7 linked regions of the Homo sapiens genome follow. The protein of the gene in region 6 interacts with the protein of the main gene of each other region in a biochemical or structural test. Each region holds a gene or a part of one and is shown on either strand. Other genes may lie near its edges.

Region 1 (3,500 bases), on a different chromosome or scaffold from region 6:
AATATTGTTCTTCTAAGATTTTTAATTAGTTGCTTCAGTTATTACATTTTTTTCTATTTTTTTTTTAAATAGAGATGAGGTTTTGCTATGTTGCCCAGGCTGGTCTCCTGGACTCAAGCAATCTCCCACTTCAGGCTACCAAAGTGCTGGGATTTACAGGCATGAGCCACCTCTCCCAGTCTCAGTTATTATTTTAATAAATGAGACTGAACGTCCTCTTATAAGGCTCACTCCCTTGTTCCTACTACATTTGCTCTGTTTAAGTATCTCTTTAAATTCTTCAGTTAAGATCATCCCTTTTATCAGAAACCTAGACACCACAAAGTAGCTTTCTCACCTTTAATTCTCCATAGGGATCACTATTATACTATAATATTTGCATACGTATGTGTATATATGTATTTGCTTTTTTAAAAAAGTAAAAATGCTCTTCTCACTCTTTGTCGATATAGGCACCCAGGTACGTAGTTAGAAATTAAATAAAGGCCACAATAATTTCCCAAGGAAGATCATTAAAAAGAAAAATCCTTTCTTCCTCTAATATCACATAGCTGGCCTTTATGGCATGCCAGCTAAGAAAAAAGGTATTGCCTATGGTGACAGGAAGACTCAATCTTTCTCTCTTTGGGTTGTAGCTGAATTTCTATCAAAAGTCCTAGTAAAATATATAACTCCTCATTTGTTCTAAGCCAAGTCTTTTCTTCAGTTTTCCTTCAAACAATACCTTTACTTTCCCATTAGAATATGAAGAATTGGAGACTGTGAACAGCAAGGTTTGGGGTGGGTATCAGTCACTTCAAATCTGGCTATGCAGAGAGAGGGAAAGACATGGCAGAATAGCAGGGGTGGAGGGTGAGTGAAATGTATCTTCATTGGGAGTATTGAAAGAGAGCAAGTTTTTCAAAGTTGTTGCCGGTATCTCATGAAAGCCCAGGCTGCTACCATGGTGAGGGCAAACACTGGCACCAGCACCATAAATATGGGAATACCACTTGGGTCCCCTTCACCTCGATGTCCTATAGGTCCATTCTGCACCTGTAACTGGAAGGGAAAGAAAAATGTTAACTCTAGTGACTAATGTGTGTTTGCAACTGAAACGCCCAGGTTGATACATCACCTGGGTTTGTAGACTCTAGACCACCCAAAACTGTAACCCCCAGCAATACCTAGCAGAAGGAGTCCTCTCTTTGTCCTGAGCTGATGCATCAGTGTCACAGGATCTTTGGAAAGAAAATAGGTCTAATGGGGAGGCATTTAACCTTGCTGACCTAAAGGGACCCGTGAGGGCAAGTCAGGTAATTTCTGTTTCTGTACTGCCTCTACCTTGCTATTTGTGTATCGTATCAGGAAAATGAAGACATGAGATAAAACCTATGATCTTATAGGGAACTTGGATATTACTTGGTGAGGAAGAAGGGGGATCTTTCTGGAAATGTTTACTTAGATAATCAGTCATCAAAATGTAGTAAGAGCAGATGTGGGCAATGTCAACATAGGTGCAATACCAACATACGTCCAATGCCATTACTTGAAAAATGCTTTCCAGATCCCAGAAGGCACCCAACTCCCTCCAAAGATGGGGTTTTGCCCTTCATCTGCTCATTTCTAATACTAGAGAGAGATGAAGGTGAATCTATATGGAACAGATGTAAAAAAGCAAAAAGAAATTATATCCTAGTGCTTATAATTTTCTATTGGCTAAGTGTTTCCTTTTGAGGCTGGATGGTCTTCATTTTAGTGATGGTTTTCAGGGTAGCTCTTCTTAATATCAACTTTTAGTGGCTAACTTGCAATAATTATGGCATCATCGTATTTCAGTTAAACTGCCTCATTACAACTCATAAAACTGACACTTCAATCTGAAAGGCAAGACTGCATGAAATACCATTATACCCTCTATTCCACCTCTATGTTTTTCATTCATTTGCTGATGAGCTGTCCTGAAAGGACATGCTCAATAAGAAGGCATGGTTTTTAGGGCTAGGCCAATTGCCTGAACATAAGGGTCTTTTTTATTAGGAATTATTTATGGATGTTTCCTTAAAAGTGAACACTGGAAATAACTTCTCACATACCTTCCAAAAGAATTGTAATCATATTGAAGTGTGTCCCTATATTTACTTGTTTTTATCTACTGCACAAATGCTCCCATGCTTTAGAAAGAGAAGAGCCAAGGCAGAAGCAACTGATGACCAATATTATCTCTTATTAACCTGTTTTCTAATCCATTACACCCAGATTCTGCTTGCAACTGGTTGTTTTCTCAGGTATCTTTCACGTTCTGCCTTCTCTACTTTTTTAGGAACTCCTCTAAATGTTCTTAAGCTTCTAAATCCTTAGCCACTGAGTGAGGAAGAGTGCACCTATTTAAGAAGTAGCAAATTGATTTAATTTAAAGGCACATGGAACCTGTTTTGTGAATATGCTCAGAAATTCTCAATGCTATAGGAGGAATTATATCTACCCAGGCTTCCCTTTACATCATCATCCAAATTATAAAACACTTGGAAATAAGAAACAGATGCAGGGATAGGTGCTGCCTTGACTGAATTCTGAATTCCATTTCCTTTTTCCTGGAGTTCTCCTATGAACACTAAAGATTTGGTTAAGAGGGTCACCAAGTTGATAAATGAAGGGTTCATGGCAGTGACAGGGAAAAGCATATAGTGGGTACCAGAAAACCCACCATCTTTGTAGTGTTTTATCCAATGGTTTTATAAATAAGTTTTCAGCGGTAGACATATGGTTCCTTCCCTACCAAAAAGTAAAATTGGCTACGTTTTTTTACCATCTTTTTAATTAATTAATTTATTTATTTTCCATTGGTCCATGTCACTCTTAAAATTTTTTATTTATTTTTATTATTATTTTTTTAAGAGATGAGGTCTCTCTATGTTGCCCAGGCTGGTCTTGAACTCCCGGGCTCAAGCAATCATACCACCTTGGCCTCCCAAAGTGCTAAGAGTACAGATGTGAGTCACCACACCTGGCTTTTCTTTAATCATCTGTTTTAATTTGGTTGTCAAGCTTTATCTTTAAGGCATATTATCTTGAAGCAAGGACCTTGGTTATAAGCCATACTGTTGTGAATTTCTCTTTTTTTTCTCTTTTTTTCTTTTTTTTTTTTTTGAGACAGGGTCTCACTCTCTTGCCCAGGCTGGAGTATAGTGGTATGATCTTGGCTCACTGCAACCTCTACCTCCTGGGCTCAAGCAATCCTCCCACCTTAGCATCCCAAGTAGCTGAGACTACAGGTGTGCACCACCGTGCCTGAATTTTTTGTATTTTTAGTAGAGATGAGGTTTTGCTATGTTGGCCAGGCTGGTCTCGAACTCCTGGCCTGAAGTGATCCGCCCACCTTGGCCTCCCAAAGTGTTGGGATTACAGGTGTGAGCCACCGTGCCTGGCCTGAATGTCCTTCAATGATAAGCAGAAGTACCAATGGACCCCTCCCTTTGCCTGAGAAACTCTTCAGGGGAGTGAGGGTAAAACAAAAAGCA
Region 2 (3,500 bases), on a different chromosome or scaffold from region 6:
TAACTCCCCTAATTCATTTTATTTTATTTATTTATTATTTATTTTTTAGACAGAGTCTCGCTCTGTCACCCAGGCTGGAGTGCAGTGGCGCAATCTCGGCTCACTGCAACCTCTGCCTCCCAGGTTGAAGCAATTCTCCTGCCTCAGCCTCCCGAGTAGCTGAAATTACAGGTGCCCGCTACCATGCCCGGCCAATTTTTGTATTTTTAGCAGAGACGGGGTTTTGCCATGTTGGCCAGGCTGGTCTCGAACTCCTGACCTCAAGTGATCTGCCTGCCTCAGCCTCCCAAATTGTTAGGATTACAGACGTGAGCCACCGCGCCCGGCCTCCTAAATTCATTTTAACATCTTCCTTCCTTCTCTCACCAAACTAATTTGTGCTTAATTCAAGTTCTGTTCTTTTCCTTACTATATTTGTTCTAATCTTTGAAACCCATAATGACATCCAGTGTTTCTCATTGTCACTGAGAATGAGGTTGCTTCATGATGCTCTTCTTAGTAGGAGTGGCTGACAGAATGTCTTCCTTGCTTTAGGAAATGCAGGACTCAGGCAGTGAGAATGCATTCAGTTTTGATTCTGTCACACATAGCCCGGAATGCACCTCTCGGACAGCACCTCCTTGTCTGCTGCCTCTGCCATTCTCCTTACTGCTTTGAGTGTGTAAATTGAGGGGAAAAAAGGGCTTTTTGTTAGAGTTTGGGTATTTTCATTTTCAAATCATCTGACGCTGATTTTTAAGAACTCTGTTTCAAGAGCTGTAAGCAGTAGGTGAGTATTTCACTCTTCATGGTTTTACTACATCCTATCTCATTTGGGCTTGCATATGGTAAGATAGTGTGTTTTACTTGCAGCTTCCAACTGAGCCAAAGGCCACAGTATTGCAGGTAGAAGTCAAAGTCTTGGAACTAGATTTTGGGCTGTGTGTGCAAAGGTGTGAAAACACCTTATTAACAGAGAATATGAAGAAGACAGCCTAGATTGCAGGTAGAAAAATACAAACTTCTCACTGAAATCACCCATTTGTGGTGACTCCATATGAAGACAGGTTCCACTGGATGTGAAAAGTAGAAACTTTTTTTTTGGCTTTTTTTTTTTGAGACAGAGTCTTGCTCTGTCGCTTAGGCTGGGGTGCAGTGTCGTAATCTTGGCTCACTGTAACCTCCACCTCTCAAGTTCAAGTGATTCTCCTGCCTCAGCCTCCCGAGTAGCTGGGACTGCAGGCATGCAACATCACACCCAGCTAATTTTTGTAGTTTTAGTAGAGATGGGGTTTCACCATATTGGCCAGGCTGCTCTTGAACTCCTGACCTCAGGTGATCCACCCGCCTCAGCCTCCCAAAGTGCTGGGATTACAGGCGTGAGCCTCTGCGCCCGACCTCCTAAGGCTCTTTTGATGTGTCACTCCTCTCAGATTTCCAGGGGCCACTAGATCTTGTCTATTCAAGGGCTTCCAAAATTTGCTTCAGACCTTTATTTCCAATACCATTTCCTAGGACTTCTAGCATCAGCCAAGCTGGTGTCCTTTTCCATAAGCCTGGATTGTATAGCTCCCTCCCCACCTTCTCCCACCTTCCCTTTTATTTCTTTACTCTGCATCATTTATAGCATGTCACAACAGCATGTCTTGTCAGAAGACCTGGGTTTTGTCCCAGGTTGGTTAGATGTATGACCTAGGTCAAACTATTTTTTCCTCCCTGAACCTCTGTTTCCCCATATGTAAGAGAAAGAGACCGCACTAGGTGACTTCTATGGTCCCATTGGTCTTTTCAACCCTACCATTCTGTGCTTTTTCTTTGGCTGCCCGAGGACATAGGGCCCTTTCTTTAGTGCTTCAGGAGTGTTTACCAGTCATTGTTTGGGATTGTAGTTAACATTTTTTGTCCTCTCTTTAGCTACTTTTTGAAGATATGTTTGTGAACTGAGAAAGCGCCCTGCTAGAGCTAGTTTCCTAGGATGTGGGTGAGGGAGAGGGCTATTGAGCGAGTTCTACTTTGGACTTTTATCTTGCATCCAGAAGCCAAGAGGAGATGGGGTTTGTAAAATATTTTCTCTTATGCTTCTTATTGGGAGAATGAGATGTTTCTTTGAAAGCGGGTGCATATTTACCACTTTGGCTCAGAAAGAAGGATGTGGTCTCCTGGAGACATCCTTCTAGTATACTGTGAGGCTGCTATGTCTGTGCTGTTTGGGTTGGCCTTCCATCTTTTCAAGGTGCCAGTGTCTTGGCATTTAGGGTTGGATGATCACTTCATCTTTCACTGTGCCTTTCAGGGCCCTGTTTGATTATGATCGGACTCGGGACAGCTGCCTGCCAAGCCAGGGGCTCAGCTTCTCTTATGGTGACATTCTGCATGTCATTAATGCCTCTGATGATGAGTGGTGGCAGGCAAGGCTGGTGACCCCACACGGAGAAAGTGAGCAGATCGGTGTGATCCCCAGTAAGAAGAGGTGAGTCGTCATGATCATGAGCAAGGCCTTTCCTGCCCTCTTGCTGGTATTTCTTTCTTGTTTTCCTATTAGAAGTTGCTTGAGAGCAACGTTTGTGCCTTGATTCCTTTTTGGTAGAGTCGGTACTCAACATGGTTTTTACTCAGTGAGCCAAAAAAATGGCTGCTGTGCCTGCTGCAACCCACTGCTGAGACCATTTACTGGCAGTAACAGGACTTCTTTCTGATTCCAAAACAGGGTGGAAAAGAAAGAAAGAGCTCGATTGAAAACTGTGAAGTTCCATGCCAGGACGGGGATGATTGAGTCTAACAGGGTAAGTGGGGATCCCCAAGGAAATCAGCCAGTAGGTAAAGAGGGTTGAGAAGCCTGGAGTTTAGTCTGATGTGTAGGAGAACTGGGGAACACAAAAGAAAATCTCTTTTTCAGGGGGCTGGCTCTGTCCTATCAGAACATTGACTGCTTTTCAGAAAGCAGAGAGGGAGCTCTTAAAGTTCACAGCCAGTCTGTGCTCCTTTCCCCTGGGTACCGGCTCTTGAAGATGTGTTAGAGTTGGACTGTCTGGAAGGCTGACTTGCTTGGGGAAAATGAAACCACTCGTGGGTGTCTCCCTGGCTATAGATCCTGTCAGAGCATCCGGCCAAGAAGCCCAGCTCCAGAGCTCCCACCTCCCTTCAGACCACCTGAGGCAGGCGGGTTCTCCATTCACCCCTTTTTTTCTATGAGCTTCACAGGCCAAAGAACTTCTGGAGCAGTAGAGGGAAGAGAGACGTGGAGTAGATGTGTATATCAGTGGTACCTTAGGGCATGTGTCCAGGAGGCTACAGTGACCTTTGTTCTTTAGGAAGTACCAGTGAGTGTTATGAGTGTCTGGATTATGTAGAAACTTCTAACATCCCTACAACATTTTCTTGTAAACATAATTTTCCTCTTACATCAACTTTCATTTAATCTCATAGACTCCATTTGTGAGAGATGGTCTTTTATTTAGCTCACCGTTGTCTCCATTTTAGTTTTTCTTGCATGCTTTAAAATCCATTGTTCTGTTTTTTTT
Region 3 (3,500 bases), on a different chromosome or scaffold from region 6:
GCTCACTGAAACCTCCACCTCCTGCGTTCAAGTGATTCTCTTGCCTCAGCCTCCCAAGTAGCTGGGATTATAGGCGTCTGCCACCACGCCCAGCAAATTTTTGTGTTTTTAGTACACAAGGTTTCACCATGTTGTTCAGGCTGGTCTCGAGCTCCTGACCTCAAGTGATCCGCCTACCTTGGCCTCCCAAAGTGGTGGGATTACTGGCGTGAGCCACAGCGCCCGGGCTGATCGCTTTTGATAATTTACTTTTTCCAGGAGTTTTGCTATTAAAAATGTGGTAAATACCCTTGCACACACATCTTTGTCCCCCTTTGCCAGTTTTTCTTTCAGAGTGACACTCAGAAGTAAAAATTGTACACTCTTAGGACAACTTAGCAGTGTCAGTATACATTGTGTAAATTTTTATTTCCACCTATTTTTTCATGACATTTGGAGTATAAACTATTATTAATCTCTAATAAATCAATAAATGTCAGTTGAGATTTGGCAGTAAAAAAATGTCATCTTATTGTTTTAGTTTGCATTCTTCGATTTAGAGAGGTTGATGTGTTAATGACCAGCAGGCCGCTCTTGTCAATCCTGTTGGGCTGTATGCTGCTATATGAGAGTACAGTGCTGTCATGACTGCCCTTTTGTTATTCACAGTTACCTGTCACTGGGTAGTTGTAAGAGTTGTACAGTTGAGATGCTGAGCACATCAGAAGTGTTTTTTTGATGCTCTATTCAGCACTTCTTTTGGTATTCCCATTGAATCCAGTGAACATTTGGATGGAATACTTAGACCTTTTATCAATGTCAATGGCATCCGTTATTGGTTTTCAATATGTTTTTTTGCTTAATGATCTTGAATTAGAAGATAAAGATGTCATTCAGCCACCATATCCAGGTTGATGTAAGAAAATTTTGATTGTATAATACTTGTATTTCTTTGATGGTTCATTACAAGTGTGTATCACTAGTAAAAATGATCACTGAAAATGTCTCATTTTGGTCATAGCAAAGGGTTTTGCTAGCCTTTTGAGTTTTTAATTACGTTACATTTTAGATTAATTTCATCAAATCACTGGAATTAAGAAAACATTATCCATAGAGAATGCCACTTTGAGTGGTTTCTTTTTTCTTTTCTTTTTCTTTTTCTTTTTTTTTTTTTTTGAGACAGAGTCTGGCTTTATTGCCTAGGCTGGAGTGCAGTGGCATGAGCTCAGCTCACTGCAACCTCCACCTCCCAGGTTCAAGCAATTCTCCTGCCTCAGCCTCCCGAGTAGCTGGAATTATGGGTGAGTGCCACCACGCCTAATTTTTGTATTTTTATTAGAGACGGGGTTTCTCTGTGTTGGCCAGGCTGGTCTCGAATTCCTGACCTCAGGTGATCCACCCACCTCGATCTCTCCAAGTGTGGGATTACAGGTGTGAGCCGTGGCGCCCAGCCTGGGTGGTTTCTTTCAAGCTGTAGATGACTAGTAAGAGTCTGAGATCATTTGTACAGCTTGGGAATTTTTCTTTTATTTTTTGTTGAGATGGGGTCTCCCTTTGTCACCCAGGCTGGAGTGCAGTGGCATGATCATGGCTCACTGTAACCTCAACCTCCTGGGCTCAAGCGATCCTCTCACCTCAGTCTCCAGTGTAGCTGGGATTACAGGTACAAGCCACCACACCAGCTAATTTTTTTGTTTTTGTAGAGATGAGGTTTCACTTTGTTGCACAGGCTGGTCTCAAACTCCTGGATTCAAGTGATCCTTCTGCCTTGGCCTCCTAAAGTACTGGGATCACAGTGAGCCACTGCTCCTGGCCTGGTTCAATAAATTTTGATAAGTATATACATCTGTGTAAACCATACCCCCTTCAAGACACAATGTGTCCATCACTCCAAAAAAGCTTCCTTGAACCCCTTCCCAGTGTAGGGGAGGGAAAATAGCCTCTACCCTTCTAAGTTTTCGGTTGGGGCCCCTGTAATAAAGGGTAGATTAACAAGAGAAAAACATGTAAACTTGTTTAATATAAGTTTTATGTGACATGGGAGCCTTCATAAGGAAAGGAAGACCCGAAGAAACAGTAAAACCTGAGTGTTTTTAAATTAGGTTTGATGAAGAAGGAAGAGTTGTGGAATGTGATAGGACAGAAAGGGATATGAGCCAAGAGTAGTAAACAGGGAAAAACTTAACAAGGCCTGTTTGTTCATATTCCTCTGGGTGTTCCTCTATTTTTTTTTTTTTTAATTTTTGAGACAGGGTCTCACTCTGTTCCCCAGGCTGGAGTGCAGTGGCATGATCATAGCTCACTGCAGCCTCAACCTCTTGGGCTCAAGTGATCCTCCTGCCTCAGCCTCCTGAGCAGCTGGGACTATGGGTATGTGCCACCATGGGTGGCTGATTTTTGAATTTTTTTTGTAGAGATGGAATCTCACTGTGTTGCCCAGGCTGGCCTCAAACTCTGGGGCAGAAGTGATCCTCCTGCCTCGGCCTCCCAAAGTGCTGGGATTATAGGCATGAGTCAATGCGCCCGGCCACTCTGTCTTTTGAGATTAAGATGCTGCTATCTTCTGGGTATAGAGAGGACACCTCTCACATGAGGATCCTATGATCTGCTTCAGGGGAAGTCTTTTTTGCACCTGCTGTTTCTCAGATTCCTTCAACTTAAAATATTCAACAATGCCAAGGTGTCATATTTTGGGAGTAGCATGTTCTGAAGCCTGTCATAGTCAGTTCCCTATGACCCTGCCCCAGGTAAATTAATCTATAATTGTAGATTAGTTTTGTCAGTACTTGAACTTCATATGAATGTAATCATACAGTATGGTTTGTGCCTTTTTTGGGTCAGGTTTCTTTTTTTCCACATATCATTTTTGAGATTTATCCTTGTTGTGTGTATCAGTAATTTTTCCTTTTTATTTCTGAATATTATATACCATTTGTTTATTCATCTGTTACTAGACACTTGGGTTTTTCTAGTTTTGGGGTTTTTGTAAATAAAAATGCTGTAAACTTTCATGTGCAGGCGTTTTTGTGAGCATATATTTTCATGAATACTGAGTAAGTATTTGTGAGTGGAAGTGCTGGGTCATATAGTAAGTGTATTTTTAACTTTATAAGAAACTACCAATTTTCCGAAGTGGTTGTGATATTTTACGTTTCTCTTAGCAATGTACAATAATAGTTCCAGGCACTTCACAGCCTCGTTGAAACTTAGTGTTGTCTGTTTTTAAATTTTAGTTACCTTAGTGGGTGTGTAGTGGCACCTCATTGTGGTTATAATTTTGAATTTCACTGAGTGGAGCCTTGATAAAGAATGTTCTTGAGGTTTTCCTTAATTTTTCTACAGGATTGTAGCCATATACAATTGAAATTCATCTTTTATATTGTTAAATTTTTTCTTTAGGTGTCTTTAAGAGTGATTGAAGAGAATAATTCAAAATGCCTGAAAATCCTGCTACAGGTATACTGGATATATTGTTCTATAATTAAATTAATTATTTAAAAATGGAATCTCAAATGGGACTT
Region 4 (3,500 bases), on a different chromosome or scaffold from region 6:
GACAGGGTCTCACTGTGTCACCCAGGCTGGAGTGCAGTGGCACAATCTCGGCTCACTGCAGCCTCCGCCTCCTGGTCTCAAGCCATCCTCCTGCCTCAGCCCCGCAAGTAGCTGGGACCACAGGCACATGCCACCACACCAGCTAATTTTTGTATATTGTGTAGAGATGGCATTTCTCCATGTTGTCTAGGATGGTCTCGAACTCCTGAGCTCAAGCGATCTGCTTGCCTCAGCCTCCCAAAAGTGTTGGGATTACAGGCGTGAGCCACTGCCCCGGCGCAGGGGAGGCTCCTTTGTGAAGGGTAAATTGCTGTGTTGTAGGTCTCCACTTTTTTGCTTTTTTTTCTTTTAGCCAGGAAGTATTCCTTATGGTCAAAGCTCAGTGCATAAGAGAGCGGCTCTGGCTGAAGGAATGGAAGTCTTCTTCCTTGAGGAGCCATAGTCAGGAAAACCCAGCACTTGGTCCTGCCTCCTTCCACTCCTGAGTGATTTCCACTCTGTGCTCTGGGCAGCAGCTCTGGGTTTGAATTGGCCTCAGTTCGAGGCCATTGCGGAGCCTGAGAGAGGAACCAGCTGGCTCCCTGGGATCCTTAGCGTCAAGGGGTGGCTGCTTTGGCACCGATTCTCTGTTGGAGATGATGCCATCACCCACCTAGGAGCTTCCTTGATGGATTCCACACCCTGTGTGGGCTCCTGATCCAGAATGCCCATCCCCCACTGGCACTTGGGTGCTGAGGGAGTCTGCATCGGCAGCAGCCTACCACGTGGGGCCTGGAACTGGAAGGAAACTGGGGAGGACATGTGCCTGGGTGTTGGTGGGCAGGTGAGCAAACCCAACCCATCGGGGCAACTCTTGCTGAGTTAGATCCCCAGACATTTAAACCTACCACGCTCAGGCCTGGGGGTGTGGAGTGACTAGGAGACACACTGTGTTGTGGTTTTTTTGTTGGAGGTGTGGCTCTTATTCCGGTATTGATAGGGCATTGTCATTCAGGATTTTGTGTCCTATCTTCATATCTCATTAACTCTGTGGCAGCCCCAGGGAGATGAGTGGTGTCTTATGATCTTTGGTTCCAGGGCCCTGTCTGTAAGGAAGAAGTCGCAGGGCAGAAAGGTGCCTGAGTCAAGGCCAAGCCCAGTGCCCCTGATTCCTTGTCTGGGGTGGTTTTTCCTGTTCCCTGGTTAGGCCTTCCCACTACAATTTCAGGACATTTCCAGTCACTGTGGGACTCTGAAATTATGTAGCTTTCTTTTGTCCCGGATTTGATACATGGATCTGCGGGGAACAAGCGAACACCTTTGCCCCAGCTGGTGGTAGGGAGAAGACAGAATTGTTTACTTCTGAGTGGCTCAGTTGGGTCTCTTGTTTTTCCCAGTAACCAAGTCTAGCTTGGTCACTTGGAGCCCCATGCAGTCCTTTGTTTTTTCCCTTTGATTTGGGGAAACACCTGAGTTTTTTCCCTTGAGGATTCTCAACTCCCTGCCCCTGGGGTGAGCCTCAGTATCTTCATCTGTAAGATGGGGCTAATGGTGCTGCACTGCCTGCCTCTGTCACCGGGAGCATTGAAGTGCCTGGCCCAGGTGGGGCTGGGGTGTAGACAGGGGCCGGGGTGCACAGGATGTAATTCTAGTCCGTAGCTTGCCGCCTTGTTGGGGGAATGGGACGCTCATGAGAGTGACATTATGAGACAGGTCAACTGATAGAGATGCACAAACAGGCTTTTTCTTTTATAAAAAACTCGGTATGCTACACACTTTCCCCAGATACTCTCATTCACCTTTAGTGGCTCTCATTACCATCTAAATGTGGGACTCCTCAAGTCATTCCCACCAGGCCTCTATTGGGAGGCAGAAATGGCAGAACTTGGCTGGACCTCTCGCGTGCTCATTGCCTGATGTTTCCTTCTCGTTCCCACTCCCCACACCTCCTGTGCCTCCTCTTTACTTTCCTAGTGAACTGGCTGGCTTGCTTCATCAAACTTAAGAGAATGGAGCCAGCAGCGTCCGCTGGAGAAGCCGAGGAGAGCTTCACGAATGTGCTGGGACTTGGTGTTGAAGTGAAGCTCTGAATGCATGGAGCCATGGAGGGAGGACGTGTGGGCTGCGTAGGCTGGACCGCACAGGCTGAGCCATAGAGAGGAGCCATGTGTTTACCCAGCCTGAGCAGAGCAGGGGTTTGGCCTTGGCTCTGGGTGGAAGGGAATTGGGGATGCAGAGGTAATCTGGAGGACCTTAATGGCTAGGCTGAGTGGGAGGTTTGAATTTAGGCATTGTACACTGTCAGAAATTAGAGCTGGAAGTTTGTTTTTTTTCCCCAAGGGAATAACCCTGCCAGGCTTTTCTAGTGGGACTAATGCAGATGGGTGCTGATTGTCAGGTGTGGGTTATTTATTATTCAGCAGAGGTTGCCTGGCCTTTTGTTCTCTCTCCACTTCCTTCGGGTACCAGCCACCTTTTCTTCATCCCCTCTGCCCTGGAGGGTCAGCAGGGCAAGGGACATAAGTAAAAGCTCCAGCTGTTGTGGTTTTTCTTTTGGTTCTTTTGTTTGTTTATTTACTTATTTTTTAGAGACAGTGGAGTGCAGTGGTGCAATCATAGCTCACTGCAGCCTCAAACTCCTGGGCTCAAGCCATCCTCCTGCCTCAGCCTCCTTAGTAGCTAAGATTACAGGCGCATGCCACCCTGCATGGCTAATTTAGGTGGTTTTAATTGTGTTATTTAAGAGGAAGTGGCAGAGTCATTTGAAATTAATGGTTGAGAAGAGGTTTTTAAGTGAAGGGCAGATTTTATCTGTGTATCATTTCAGGGTACCTTTATTGCAAAATGACAGAAACTTAGCTCAGATCATCTTAGGTAGAAAAAGAGAAATGTATTGACTTAGAATATTCCACAACCTTTGGATGGATGGTGGAAACTGGCCTTTGGGACGTTTGACCTCTTGGATCGATGCTGTGGGCTTTTCCCACGGGTCTGAACATGACCTCAGGCCCCTCTGTTCAGGTTCACAGCCCCTGACCAGGGAAGAAAGGGAGCTCTATCCAATCAGCCCAGGCAGACAAACCTCATGGTAGGATTCTGATTGGTCTGGCCAGTGTTATGTGTCCACATGAGGCCCGGTCACTGTGGCCAGGGCTAGAGGACTAAGACTGGCTCAGCTTTGGCACTGTGCCCAGCAGTGGAACCCCAGGGTAAGGTGATGGGCTACTGTGATTGGCAGCCCATTCCAACACTATGTGGGTTTTTAGAGGGAGGCAGAGCAGTTGTCTAAAGGAAGACAAGCAGCAGCGATGTCACGCAGGTAAAAGAGCAGATGAATGTCCACTCCAAGCATTACCACCTTTGTGCGATAATACAGTTAGCACAGGCGGTCATTGCTGGAGTGGGATGGTGGGTCTAGGTAGTAATGATCAGACCTTACAAGGTTTTAGACCTTGAGCAAGGTTTTTAACCCTTCTGAGCTTATCTCCTCTACAAAGTAATTAAAACACTAACTACTTCAC
Region 5 (2,371 bases), on a different chromosome or scaffold from region 6:
GGACAACAGACCTAACAAATTTATAAACCTGCATATGAAGAGAGCTTTAGTCAAACATAAACTGACATGAAAACCCAACCAAAACAATTACTGTATCAAAATGTCTTTATCTCATCTTGCCCACCTTTTAGATGACTGGAAATCATTTACTTAGAAAGAAAACTGCCGTTTGATTTGAATGTACTGTGTTTCATGACATAGTAATAAATCTGAACTTTTACTACCAGAAAAATTTGTCTTTAAGTGCCAGGACTATCACAAGACAAACTTTATGAACAACTCAAAATGTATAAAACTGTCTTTTGTGGACCCCAGAAAACAAGCATTTGAGGCTCAACATGAATGGGTAAATGCTCCAGTACTGCGCACACAGATCAACATAATTGAGAACAGATGTTTTACACTCATCTGCATTTCTTTTAAAAAACAAAAAAAGTAAAATGTTTAGTAACTTTTGAGAATCTATTTCTAGTGCAGCATTGATTGATAAAAGACTGCTTAAAGAAAACTATTTTGTACTGCATTGAATAAAGCTGAAATGCAAACTCATTACAATAAATGATCATTAATAATTGGTTTAGATTTTAGGATGCACAATAAATTTTTTTAAGTCTAAAGCCTTTCAGTTACAAAAATTAAGTCAAGCCTATATTTCTACAATTCATTGAGTCAAGCTCTGTCTTCTGAAATACCACAGTTAACATTCTAGAATATAAAATATGAATTCACTTACTCTCTGTATTTTAAAGGGTACTCCTTATAAAATTCCAGTTAGCACTGTCCTCCTACTAAAGGGAAAAGGAACCAAGTAAAACAGTAGGGTTTCATTTGGTACTTAAGAGCCCAGTAATACCCCTTTGGGAAACACATGCTTTGGTGCTTACAAGTTCAAGAAAATCAAAATTGCTTTACATGCAATAGCTAATTATGGTCTACCACAGAAAACAGGGTGTTTTATGCATTGAGAATTGTTCACATGAAGCCCTGAGGTACCCGCCTTTCATTTAGGCAACAAACAGCCTCCCCTGATTTTGTAGTCTTTGTCACCATCTTCCCCAGTGCCCCAAATTCAGAATAGTCTGATTAACAATCTTGTCTGGAGATATGGTCAATTTAATAAGATTTTTTATGATACAGAGTGTGCAGATCATCTAATTTTGAAGCACCGTCATCTAGCGGAGTTTCACTTGCAGTGCCCAGGTCTCCATTTTCATGTGTGTCAGTTACTGCCTTCTTATTAAATCCTGAAAGAAAGGAGAAAAAAAAAGCAGACACTTTCTGGTTTAAAAAGTTGGTTTTGGTCAGGTGCAGTGGCTCATACCTGTAATCCCAGCACTTTGAGAGGCCAAGGTGGGTGGATAACCTGAGGTTAGGGGTTCGAGACCAGCCTGGACAATGTGGTGAAACCCCGTCTCTATTAAAAATACAAAAATTCGCCGGGCATGGTGGCACATGCCTGTAATCCCAGCTATTTGGGAGACTGAGGAAGGAGAATCACTTGAAGCCAGGAAGTGGAGGTTGCAGTGAGCTGAGATCGTACCACCGCACTCTAGCCTGGGTGACAGAGTGAAACTCTGTCTCGATTAAAAAAATTAAAAAAAAAAAAAAAGTTAGTTGTATAAGTTTATTGAGTGAAAAACAAAGGAATGCCCAAGTAATTAACATTAGTAATCTGAGGCAAAAATAATGCCTTATATTAATCAAATCAGTAATTCCTAACAGGGGAATTCTTCCCTCTTATGGCAGGTATCAAATATTGTACAGATTTAAAAATACTATATTGGGCTTATGTAAAAATTGTATTAAGTTTCCTATCAAGTTTTCCTTTCCTTTTTTTTTTTTCTTTTTTTTTTCTGAGACAGGGTCTCACTCTATTGCCCAGGCTGGATTGCAGTGGCATGATTACGGCTCACTGCTGCCTTGACCTCCTAGGCTCAAGCAATCCTTCCACCTCAGCCTCCTGAGTAGCTGGAGCTACAAGCATGTGCCACCATGTCCAGCTATATTTTAAAAATTTTTTTGAAGAGACAGGGTTCACTATGTTGCCCAGGTTGGTAACTCCTGGCCTCAAGCGATCCTCCTGCCTTGGCCTCCCAAAGTGCTTGAATTACAGGCATGAGCCACCATCAAGCTGTCTGTAAGACTTAGAAGTAATACATATAATTGTAAAATTCAGTCAATTCTACTTATATAAATATCTACTGAACTGTGAATTATATTTTTATTTTTCATTGTTGCTTTCATATTACATTAACTTCAGTTAACTGAGGCATATACTAGTTAATTGCTTAAAATGTAATTTGTTGGCAAGATGATGTCTAGCTAAAACTTAAAACGAATTCTGATCATCTATAAAATAAATAATAGGCTT
Region 6 (3,500 bases):
ACTGCAACCTCCGCTTCCTGGATTCAAGCCATTCTCCTGCCTCAGCCTCTCGAGTAGCTGGGATTACAGGCATGCGCCACCACACCCAGCTAATTTTTGTATTTTCTGTAGACACAGGGTTTCAACCATGTTGGCCAGGATGGTCTCAATCTCTTGACCTCGTAATCCGCCCTCCTCAGCCTCCCAAAATTCTGGGATTACAGGCGTGCGCCACCGTGCCCAGCCGTGGAGTATTTATTTATTGTCCGTCTCTCCCCTCTGGAATGTAAGCTTCTCCATTTGGTCCAACACTGTACCTGATGCACAGCCCAAAGGCCCTCAATAAATACTTGTTGAATGAATGAATGTGTCCTTCATGTCTATAATTTCAGCATCTACCACAGCAAGCGAAGTAAATAAGCAAAAGTTATATGACAAAATGTGTATGCACTTTGGTCAGTGAGCTTCAAAACAGGGTGTGTGAGCCACTCTCATTACTTCAATTTAGAATTGAGATTCCAAGAGTATTATTTCCTTTTTATTCTCAATTTGTGGAATCAATATCCCAGTTTCTTCTCCACCTCACTCCTGCCCCGATAGATTCTAAGATGATGGTAGAGTGTGGTGGGTGAGTTCCCACATCCAGAGCCAGAATTCAAATTCTGACACCTTTGTTTCCTAACTAACTGTGAGAATTCACAAGTTATCTGACCTTTCTGTGCCTCAGTTCCCTCAAATTTAGGATGAGAATTTAAAATAATACTTATACTTCCTAGGGTTATTATGAACAATAAATTAGCTAATACATATAAAACTTTTAGGAGAGACCTGTCATCAAGATTGGCTATAATTATCATTAATCTCTTTCCCACCCCACCAACTTTGCAAGTGATGTTTAATGGAGATGGAGAGGGCAGGAGGGAAGAAGGGAGAAGCTTGTGAGAATTCTGTGAGTTGATGATAGAAAATTAAAATATAAATTTACTATAATTGACCATGAACTAAAGCCTTCTGCCCAATATATTCAAGTAGCAGTTTCTTAAAGTGTAGAATGATATACTTAAATTTAAACCCAAGTTATCATGGAATTATACTCATCTGAAACAAAGTTATGTGCTTGGTTCTTTTAGAGGCTATAGGCTCTGCGTGGCGCTGTCCAACAGAATTTTCTCCGATGGTGGGAATGTTCACTGTAATCTGCACTGTCCCATACAATAGCCAGTAGGCACATACGGCTACTGAACATTTGAAATGTGGCCAATACAACTACGGAAATAATTTTTGTTTGTTTGTTTTTTGAGACAGAGTCTCGCTCTGTCACCCAGGCTGGAGTGCAACGGCATGATACCAGATCACCGCAACCTCTACCTCCTAGGTTCAAGCGATTCTCCTGCCTCAGCCTCCTGAGTAGCTGGCATTACAGACACACACCACCATGCCCAGCTAATTTTTGTATTTTTACTAGAGATGGGTTTTCACCATGTTGGCGAGGCTGGTCTCGAACTCCTGAACTCAAGTGATTCACCTGCCTCGGCCTCCCAAAGTGCTGGGATTACAGGCGTGAACCACTGTGCCCAGCCTATTTTATTTAACTTTGGTTATTGTTAACTTGAACAGCCACATGTGGGTTGTGGCTCCCCAACTGGGCAGCATAGCTGTAGGGGATTTGATATACGAGCTCCCTGACTTGGTCCATGGCTGCTCTCCAGCTCCTGGTCTGCTCCTTCTCCTTGCCCCAGAAATCAACACTCACAAGGCCAAACTGCTGTTCCACACCTCTATGGCTGTGCATATGCTGGCCCATTGCCTGAAATATCCTTCCTCCACATCCACCTCCAAACCTTATCAAACATCTTGTTCAGATTTCATTTCCTCAGGACAACTTTCCCTAACCTCCTCCTGCCTACCTCCCGCTACTGCCGACACAATCCACCATCACTTTCTCTGTGTTCCTCTGCATCTGTTTCTGTTGCTGCTCTCATCATCCTGTAGTTGTAACCTATTTTCTCTGACACTAACAGACTATGCAAATTCTGAGGACCAGATCTTATGCATTTCTTCATCCTAGCGATGTGTGCCCATAACACAATACATGTGTAGTAAATATTTGCTGATCCCATTATTAATTTTTAAATATGTGAATGTTTTCTTAAAATTACTTTTGGAGTATTGACAACCACTCTGTGATTATGGGAACTCTTTAAGTCAAAGTCTATTATAAGGCCAATTTTCAAATAATAAAAAGTTCTTAGAGTATCAGTTGAAGTTCTACTTATTTCAAACTATATCAATATAATATTTTAGTACAAACCAAATAATATAATTTTCCCCTTAGAGTTCCCTAGAACAAAATCCTACCTATAACTCCTCCTCCTAAGGGTCTGGAAGTCTCTTGGATTTCAGAAACTGATCTTGTCACTGATCTGTCCCCAGTGCCTGCAGTCACTTACTAGGGAGACATGGATGAGATTTAAAAGCAAGAAGACAAAAGGACCTGATTTAAGACTTGTCATGGATGCCAACAAATGGGAATTCAGGGTAATCTACCCTTGCTGTACCCTATATCCAATCTTACCCCCAAGAAGGAAATAATTAAAACCTTATCCATCATAAAAAATAATGTCCACAAGTGATATGTGTCTGCTTAGTGACATGTTATCCAAAACAGAATTGTCTGTTTTCCTTATTCTTTGGCAAAGCTCAAGAAATCGTCCCTTCATAGATTATGTAGCATTTGTTGCAATATTGACCTGGCCTGACAGCCACACTGTTTCATATTTTCCCATCACGATTTTCTAATTTTTTACTTAAATTCTCACACAAGTGTTTCTATAATTAGAATAAGCTTGGATGGATACATTTCTGTGAACCTAATTTGTATGAAATATTTCCCAAATACCAAGCATCTGGTGAATGTATTTAACAAATGATGGTCTTTCCTGACCTCTAGGAACTTACAGTTTAATAATGCAAACAAATGAATACACAGTGATGAGAAATGCATACGTGTGGGTACAGCATGGCAGAAGGTCCTGGAGGGGAATGGATTTCAGAATGAATATGAATCCAGAGGACTTTACCTTCAAATCAGACATAGATTTGATGTTCGTTTTCTTATTAATTATGTGGTTTTATGTTGAAATGCACAAATAGCACTTTCTAATGTAATGAACATCGATTTAACAAATAACTAAGTTCTTTAGATCATTTAGATAAGTCTCTAATTTTCCTATATATTAACGGATTTTAAAGTCTTTTCTCTGGTTTTCTTTTTCCCTTGCCCATTACATATCTTCCAGAATTTTAATCAAAGTAGATATTTCAAAGAAGACAGAGGTCTGAGATCTCTTTTGCGGTTTCTAATGAATAATGTGAGATAAACATCTTTTTCTAAAATGTCTCATTTAAATATAGGGATATCAGTTTCTCTTTTTAACTTCCTTATAAAATCTGCCCATCTAAGAGGAACACTAAGTGTAAAAATTGTGTTCTATATGTTATTGGAATTGCTTGTGAATTCT
Region 7 (2,170 bases), on a different chromosome or scaffold from region 6:
TGTTACTGGTGGTATTTCAGGCATCAGGAGCCTTGGAAAATCATCGTAGGGGCCCATGCCTGTCTGTCCCTAGGCACCTGGGCAGTGCCACAGAGGCCCGCCCACGACTGGCCAGGGGACAGAACTCCAGTAGTGCATCCCTGTACAACCTGCACATAACGGTTATGTATGTTCACCTAAAGGAGAGAATATACTTTCTATTCCTATTGCACAAAAACCTTGTAAACTTTGAGAGGTGCTGAAAAAGCCAATTCTGCAAGCTCTCCTAGAGGACTGACATTGTAACATTAGAGTGAGAAGATTTCTCTGCCACATTCTTTTGTGTTAATCCAGGTGTGTCTTCACACCCAGTGAGTGGAAGTTGCTGGAGCTCGGTACAGGTCCACCCAGCTGAAGTGGGTTCTTTTTCCCACTACCACTGGGGCAAGGGAGTGAGCCTAGGTATGGTCACCTCAGCAGCCACAGTCTTAAAAGCAAGTCGCTAGATTTTTTGAAAGTCCCAAGAGAAGTGGTGGTCTTCCCTTCTGTCATCCCAGTATATATAGTTATACATGTAAATATCTAAATACCCCATGTAATGGGAAGGCTATGTACAGGGCAGCCTTCCCAAACGCTGTGAGGGCACAGAGCTGCTGTGGCTGCTCCACCAGGGTGTGCTGGTGGCTCAGCTTTGGGGTTGGACTCCCACGTTCACCTCCCCCTCCTGGTCCAGGCAGAGGCACCAGAACCCATCCTGCCTTTTCTCCAGTGTGAGCATTTCAGGGAGCCACCATCAGCCTTGGGTTCATGAGAGGAAGAAACCCCCAAAGACCAATGCCTGGAGCCCACTTCTCCAGCGACACCTTCCCTCGCCAGAGCAGGCTCCTAGGAGTGCATGGCAGGGGTGCCGGGTCCCTGTGCACGGGTTTGCTTTCTGAACATTGCCCATCAACACCGCCTTCAGGGAGTCCCAGAGTAACCTACTACCTCCCCCATCGCTCCTCTGCCCCCCTCACCCTGTGGGCACCAACACCTCCCGCACACAGATGAAAACCATCTACAGAGCCCTTCCCGGGTCCCTCGACCCAGTGGTGTAGCCGTTACCAATGTTTACAACCAGGGGCCGCCCCTCCTTAGATGTGTTTACTCGCATTCACAGGCCACCTGTTGGTTTGAGTTTCATGTGTCTCCTTCCCTGGCCTAGGTTGACTTGAGCACACAACTCGATCTTTCTTCCCCTCCATCAAGGCAGTGTGTGAGGACTGTGTGGGAATGACATTTCTTGTACATACTTAGCACAGCACCTAGAGTATGAACTTGTACTATTGTTCTGTAAAGAGGGTGAAATAGAGCTTATTGTAAAGTGTCGGGAGAAGTATAGTATTGTATTTGTAACAATATCGTTCTTTGTATACACAAAACTCAATGATCTATATATAAATATAAATAAATATATAAATAAAATATATCTACACGTGAGCCTGGAATGTGGACACCGCACACCCACTGAATGTACTTCCTTGACAGTCTGGTCACTGGTCCCTCCCTCCCTCCCTCCTCCGTCCCGTGGCCACAGTCATCCAGTTTGGGGTTGTGATGTATTTACTGTGCTATCTATCTTCCTTTATTTAACTGAACGCTAATGTCTGTATAAGAGTTGCTGCAACAATAAACAAGAACTTCACCTCTTGGCCTGGCCAAGTGTCTTCTTGTTGCAGGGAAGGCTTGGGATCATGTGATGAGTTTGTCTTTTCCCTAACAGACTGACTGACTAGCTCCTACCCACCCTATAGGCGCCCAGAGCCCAGGAGTTCTCTAAATGAGCTTTTATTCTGTGGAACTGACTTGGTTTTAGACAAGAAAGGCTCTGTTCTCCTGTCCCAGTTGATCCTCCAGTCCTGTGGGTCTCCTTTGAGCACACTGAACTGGAGAAAGAGAAATTCTCCGGATTTCTTACTTGACATCCTCCATGAGGGCAGGAAAACAGGAATTAATTCTCCCCCACCTCAGTCATCTCCCGTAAGGGAGGTACCTTTTTGTAAGGGACTAAGATCTAAGTGGACGGTGGAAAACAGCGCCCTGAGAGGCCCATCCAAAGGTTCTGTGAGAAGGTTCTGGAAGGTTTCCTCCTGGTGCTCTTTGGAAATTCACTTTTTGAAGGTTGCCAGGCATGCCCTCCCTGCTGCCGGGG

What was found.
Region 1: the proteins of TMEM178B (region 6) and SYNJ2BP interact in a test that uses a peptide from one of them, tested with the Homo sapiens proteins (one large-scale study listed by IntAct).
Region 2: the proteins of TMEM178B (region 6) and DLG3 interact in a test that uses a peptide from one of them, tested with the Homo sapiens proteins (one large-scale study listed by IntAct).
Region 3: the proteins of TMEM178B (region 6) and PATJ interact in a test that uses a peptide from one of them, tested with the Homo sapiens proteins (one large-scale study listed by IntAct).
Region 4: the proteins of TMEM178B (region 6) and DLG5 interact in a test that uses a peptide from one of them, tested with the Homo sapiens proteins (one large-scale study listed by IntAct).
Region 5: the proteins of TMEM178B (region 6) and GOPC interact in a test that uses a peptide from one of them, tested with the Homo sapiens proteins (one large-scale study listed by IntAct).
Region 7: the proteins of TMEM178B (region 6) and APBA1 interact in a test that uses a peptide from one of them, tested with the Homo sapiens proteins (one large-scale study listed by IntAct).

The regions. Positions count from the first base shown.
Region 1 is NC_000014.9:70,372,091-70,375,590, forward strand, and holds part of SYNJ2BP (synaptojanin-2-binding protein), read right to left. Parts: intron 1,042-3,500; coding exon 901-1,041; 3' UTR 1-900. Other genes in the region: SYNJ2BP-COX16 protein, read right to left, coding at 943-1,041. UniProt on the Homo sapiens protein: Regulates endocytosis of activin type 2 receptor kinases through the Ral/RALBP1-dependent pathway and may be involved in suppression of activin-induced signal transduction.
Region 2 is NC_000023.11:70,489,835-70,493,334, forward strand, and holds part of DLG3 (disks large homolog 3), read left to right. Parts: intron 1-2,272; coding exon 2,273-2,449; intron 2,450-2,686; coding exon 2,687-2,762; intron 2,763-3,500. UniProt on the Homo sapiens protein: Required for learning most likely through its role in synaptic plasticity following NMDA receptor signaling.
Region 3 is NC_000001.11:61,759,480-61,762,979, forward strand, and holds part of PATJ (inaD-like protein), read left to right. Parts: intron 1-3,378; 5' UTR 3,379-3,413; coding exon 3,414-3,435; intron 3,436-3,500.
Region 4 is NC_000010.11:77,920,256-77,923,755, reverse strand, and holds part of DLG5 (disks large homolog 5), read left to right. Parts: intron 1-3,500. UniProt on the Homo sapiens protein: Acts as a regulator of the Hippo signaling pathway.
Region 5 is NC_000006.12:117,562,141-117,564,511, forward strand, and holds part of GOPC (Golgi-associated PDZ and coiled-coil motif-containing protein), read right to left. Parts: intron 1,245-2,371; coding exon 1,114-1,244; 3' UTR 1-1,113.
Region 6 is NC_000007.14:141,077,064-141,080,563, reverse strand, and holds part of TMEM178B (transmembrane protein 178B precursor), read right to left. Parts: intron 1-3,500.
Region 7 is NC_000009.12:69,427,032-69,429,201, reverse strand, and holds the end of APBA1 (amyloid-beta A4 precursor protein-binding family A member 1), read left to right. Parts: 3' UTR 1-1,670; downstream 1,671-2,170. UniProt on the Homo sapiens protein: Putative function in synaptic vesicle exocytosis by binding to Munc18-1, an essential component of the synaptic vesicle exocytotic machinery. May modulate processing of the amyloid-beta precursor protein (APP) and hence formation of APP-beta.